Regions from separate parts of the Homo sapiens genome. Here region 2 is linked to region 1. Evidence: fine-mapped expression QTL. A gene starts in region 1. The other region holds a variant in brackets. All regions are shown on one strand. Distances are between the middles of the regions.

Region 1 (2,909 bases):
ACCCCAATTTCTGGATGCCCCACCCTCAGCACACACCTGTAACTTTACATGCACTCTTTCCAAGTGCCTCCTCAGCCTCACCCTTCAGTTTTCTGGCCCTTTTCTCTCACCTCCTCTATCATCTTCCTGGCTACACACTTACCCCACTCCTCAAGCACCAAGCACCATGTCCTGCAACGTCTCTTGGCCTCTGTTCCTAATGCCCTGCCCTGAATGTGGGTCCCATCTCCTCTTCTGATATTGGGAGCTCTCAAAGTGCCCATTCCTTGGACATCCTGACCCCTCCCTTCTCACAGTCTTGTCTCATGCAAGAAAGAAATGAAGGTCCTTGATACGTTTTGGCTGTGTCCCCACCCAAATCTCAACTTGAATTAAGTCTCCCAGAATTCCCACGTGTTGTGGGAGGGACCCAGGGGGGAGGTAAATGAATCATAGGGGCCGGTCTTTCTCCTGCTATTCTCCTAATAGTGAATAAGTATCACGAGATCTGATGCGTTTATCAGGGGTTTCCGTTTTTGCTTCTGCCTCATTTTTCTCTGGCCGCCGCCATATAAGACGTGACTTTGGCCTCCCGTTATGATTCTGAGACCTCCCCAGCCATGGAGAACTGTAAGTCCAATGAAACCTCTTTTTTTTTTTCCCAGTCTCGGGTATGTCTTTATCAGCAGCATGAAAATGGGCTAATACATCCTGTTTATTGGAAGTATGTGCCAGGCACTGTTCTGAGCACTTCGTAAACATCCCAATTAAGCCTCATCGCAACCCACTGGAGTAAGACCCATTATTGTGCCCATTTTACAAATGGAAAAGGGAGGCTCGGAGAGGTTATGACCCGCCCACGCTCCCACACAGCTCGCCAGTGGCAGAGCCAGCACCACTGTGCACATGCGCCCAACGCAGGGACAGGCCAATGCCCGAGGACTCACCTTGTCGATGAAGGAGGCGAACTTGTTGTTTAGCGCCTTGATCTGCTCCCGCTCCTGGGCGCGCACCCTCTGGATCTCGGGGTCCATCTCCACGTTGAGCGGGGCCAGGAGGCTCTTGTTGACGGTGACCTGAGGGATGCCCCCGGGTGGGCACACGGAGGGACACTTGGGCCCCAGCCCGGCGCTGCCGAAGGCGGTGCCCACGAAGCCGCCCAGGCGGCCGCCGCCCCGCCGTGCAGCAGCGCTGAGCGCCAGGCTTCGGCTGCCCCCAAGGCAGGAGAGGCTCTTGCTGCCAAAGGAGGCCGAGCCCTTGACCCGGGCCCGGAATGAGGCGGAGCTGCTGCCGATCCCGCCAGAGAGGACCGCGGAGCAACCGCTGAAGCCCAGGCGCTCCCCGCGGGGGAAATGGGTCAGTTGGCGGCTCATGGCTCGCAAGTACCGGTGCTGGCCGCGCGGGAGGCAGAAGGGGCGCAAACAGCCGCTGCGTTCTCGGCCCAGCTCGCCCCTTAAATAGCCTGGCTGGCTGGAGTCAGCCTAATTTGTATGTCGACAACACCTTTTAGATCCCTTGAGGCCTCTTGGGTTCTTCATGTAGGAAATTACCATGCACTCACCGAGATTTTTGTCTGTTCCACCGTGAACTCCCCATGAATCCCTGTAAAGTGACCCAGAACCCAGCATTTACTTGGCTCACCTCCTGCATTATCATGGCTTAGCGACCTTATCTCCACCTGCTGGCCTCCAATTACTGGGGTTATCACTCCCAAGATCACCCCTGGAAACTTCCAGTGGGGCTGACCCTCTGGGTGTGTGTCTGGGGAGACGGAGGTGTGTGAAGCAGAAGTCCAGGCTGCTTCTGCTTCAGAAGGCCATGAATAGAGTCAAGACTATCGCAGAAAATCATCCTTAGCCTGTCCTCCTCCTGCCTCCCAGGCTTCTGGATGAGGACAGCTCTGTCCCTTGTGCAAGAAGGAAGTTCAGAAGGAGGAGATTTTGGCCCCGTCTGCAGAGACCTCTCAGTCTGTTGGAGAAGGCAGGACACAGAGACCTCTGGTCACAAGTGTTGAGGGTTGACTTTGGACCAGAGCGAAAAGATTTCTCCACTAAGCATTTCTGGACTAAGAATGGGGACCATGCTATCTGGGAGGGAGGGAAGAAGGCCTGGGGAGGTGGTACAGGAAGACTCAGGCATGGTTTAGCAGATGGTGTTTCCTAAGGCTTTCGGTTGTTTTCATTTTTGTTTTCTTTTAATAGCAGAAGAGGCTTATTTATCCCATCCAGCAAACCTCTGCTCAGGTCATTTGCCACCCAGTCATTTCTGATTCAGCATCAAAATGTGATCAGTTATTAGGAAGAGGTCAAGACTCTTCAGATCTAAAACCAAGAACTAGATTCTAGAACTTCATTCCCTTTAAGCTACAGAGGCTCCTTCTTCCACCTAACCCGATTTCCTTTTCTCAAACTTAAGCTGCCTTCAAGTCTCCTCCTCTCTTAGCAACAGCTCTCCTGTTCCTCTGGCATGCAGGTGGGATTATTTCATTGCTCTTATTTCTTAAGCTGCCAGAGTCCTGGGTGTGTGTTCCATTTCCTCTATCAGATTGACAGGGCCCCCTGGATTCACCCTTCCCTCCTCTGCTCCCCCAGTGCTCAGCCCAGGCCTTGGCCAAAGGGACATTTAGGATGATTGTGAAACAGCAGAGTGCTTAGGGCAAGGCTTGTTACTGCACCTTCAGTGATACCCTGAAGGCTGGGTTCCCCTTGGGGACCTCATGGGTTGGTTAAATGGTACCTGGGGGTAATTGGCTGACATAGCCTCCACTGGGCCAATGACAGGACATAATAACAGCCGAAGCGTTTACTCCACGGGGAACAAAGTTGTGAGGGCATTGTTAAGCGCTGGAGATGGCACCGATCACAGATGAACAGATAACGGCATCTGGGTGTCCTAGGTGGGAGAGAGGGTGGGCTCTCAGTGCTGCCTCA
Region 2 (2,909 bases), 41 kb after region 1:
TCAAATGTTTTGTATCTATTGATACAGTCTTATGTTTTTTTCTTCTATGTCAATATGGTGAATACATTAATTCTTTGAATGTTGAGCAAGCTTTTTATTTCTGGGATACATTTTAAACATATACCTCACTATTTTTAAACAATATTTTTAAACACATGGTCATGATGTATTATCCTTTTTATATCTTTCTAGATTGAATTTGCTCATATCTTGCTGATAATTTTTGAATATATATATATATATATATATATATATATATATATATATCCATGAGGGATTTGTTCTTTAGTTTCTTCCATTAATGCTGGCCTTATAAAACAAGATGGAAGGTGTTTCTTCTTCCATCTTCTGAAACAGTTCGTGCAGAATTGTTATTACTCTTTAATTAATCCCACCTATCTGCCAGTGCCTGGATATAAAGTTATCTCATCCATGAGGTCTTCTCCGGTCCCAAAATACTGCCTGTAACTTACAATAATAATAATAATGTAACCTACAGTACTGCATGCTTATGATGGCACAGGTCCTACAGAATAAACATTTATCATTGATTTCAGTGTGTAAACCTCCAGCAATCCTCTGAGGAAGCTGTTGTTGCTACCTGTTTACAAATGAGTAAAGAAAGGCTCAGAGTTGTTAAATAACTTGCCCAGGGTCACACATTCTTTTATCTGATCATCAACTTTTCATTTAGTGCCTACTAAATTCCAAGGTGCCAGCAACTGAGCCCACCCCAGAGCCCGCTCCCTTAGCATGTCCATCAGTGCTTTCCAAACCATGGCCCTTGTGTCACCAGCATCAGAATCACCTAGGAGGTTGTTAAAAATGCAGATTTCTAGACTCCTCTGTAGTGGAAACTCAGGGAGAAGGAGGGGATGCTGGAACAAAGAATATGTATTTTTAGTAAGGGCCGCTTAATGAAATTAATGCACACTACTACATTCTGCCTTATGTTAATAGCTGTTTGCAAATTTCTCATTCTTCCCCTACTAGACCATAAATCCCTGACAGGACGCACTGTCTTATAAGTCTTGATACGCCCACGTAGCCACATGCACAACCTTGCCCACAGTCATTGTCCAACAGGCATTTACTGAACTAGAATGAAAACCACTTTGAGCTTCACATGCTCACACCTATTCACAAAGGGTCTCTCTGGATATCCTGACAGTGTCCCAAATCCCCTGTTGGGCTGAAAGGCTTTAGGAGTAAGCACTGGCTGACCCGGTAGCACAGACAGGGTTCTTTTCATCAGAGCTGGAAGGATCTGTAGAAACAATCTTGGCCACTGAAAGTCCTTAAAGTGAGGCAGAAATTGAGCCAAGAGAGGAGAAAGGACTTGCCCAGTGTCACGCAACAGTTCCC[A/G]CAAAGATGAGGATCAGCATTGAAGTCTCCTCACTCCCAGGGCACTCCTTCCCCACTTCACAGCAAGAAAAGGAGGCAGGAGTGTTCCATTTAGGTGGGCTTCCTGGAGGAGGTGAGCTGTCCTGAAGGAGGTGAAATGTCCAAAGGAATTTCCTTTCAAATGACAGGAAAGAAAGAATTTGGTGAGGAAGAGAAAAAGGGTTTATTTGAATTCATACTAAAACTCACAGGCAGAGAAAGGGAGGGAACCACAAGAGGGAGGATGTCCCAAATATTCTGCAACATCATCAGAACGGAAATGTTTAACCCAGTTCCCTATGGAAATCGAGCTCGTAAAACCCTTCTGCCTGTGCCTGTCTCCTTTTTGAAGCCCAGGACCTGACAAGTCAATTACCAAATTTGGTGGAGGAGCAGCAGAGGGCCCTGGTGGGAGGGTGTGGCCCAGATTCTGGGCTACTCTACACTTCGGAGGGAAAGGAGGGTCCCTCTCCAGAGGTAGCCCCTCTCTCCAATACCTGCTTAGAGCTTGATTTCTGTCACGCCTCAGGCCTGGGTCCCTCTGAGTTAATGTACAAGGCTAATTTTACTACTGGAGTCCAGCAAGAAAGTAGCATATATATGATCTGGAAACCAGAAGGGCTGTGTCTCAGGTGGGGAAGGGATGGGGAACTGGAAACGATAGAAGGAGCTAGAGGTTCAGACCACTGAAAGTCTCAAGAATTAAGGCCGGGTGCAGTGGCTCACGCCTGTGATCCCAGCACTTTGGAAGGCTGAGGCAGGCAGATCACTTGAGGTCAGGAATTCGAGACCAGCCTGGGCAACATGGTAAAACGCCGTCTCTACCAAAAATACAAAAATTAGATAGGCATGGTGGTGCATGTCTGTAATCCCAGCTACTCGGGAGGCTGAGGCATGAGAATCACTTGAGCCGGGAGGCGGAGTTTGCAGTGAGCTGAGATCATGCCACTGCACTCCAGCCTGGGCAACAGAGTGAGACTCCATCTCAAAAAAAAAAAAAATAGAATTAAGGCTCCCCTGGGAATAAATCTGCCACCTTACCTGCCTCACCTCTTTTCCCCTCAGAAAGTTATTAGAATGGATTGCTATTCCCAAAGCCTTTTAAAAAATGAATAAATTGGGAGTGGGAGACCTGGTTTCTGTGTCCACCCTGGGCCTTACCTTTTTCCTCACCTAAGTGAAAAGTTCAAATACACTGATTACCAAAGCTCCTGTCCAGCCTCAAATGTCTGGGACCAAGTCCCTGTTAAAGGTTGTGTTCATGTCTACACTATGTACATACCCGAAAACAGCCAGCTCCTCACACCACTTCTTCCCAACCTGCACCCTCTCCCCACAGACCTCTCCCCACGACTGAGGCCTGGGTGGTTCTCAGGGACCTTCTCTGATCAGCGGATCACTTTAGAATGCTCAGCCTGGAGTCTTGCCACCTTGCCACCTGCAGCCTTCAGAGCTGTTCCTGCAGCACCCTCATACCTGGGTCCTGGCTGGTCTGGAGGCAAGTGAATGCATCTGTTCTCTATTAG

Evidence for each region. PIP is the estimated chance that this variant, and not a neighbour inherited with it, causes the effect.
Region 2: its variant is fine-mapped to the expression of KRT72 in whole blood (TOPMed, PIP above 0.99).

What each region holds. Positions count from the first base shown.
Region 1 is chr12:52,600,101-52,603,009 of GRCh38, forward strand. It overlaps KRT72 (keratin 72), which reads right to left and starts at 1,363. Exons shown (of 9, transcript NM_080747.3): 1 at 927-1,363. The coding sequence starts at 1,352.
Region 2 is chr12:52,640,663-52,643,571 of GRCh38, forward strand. No RefSeq gene overlaps it. Among named protein-coding and RNA genes, the nearest start is that of KRT2, 10 kb to the right of the region's middle. The variant A/G (reference allele first, on the strand shown) is at 1,366.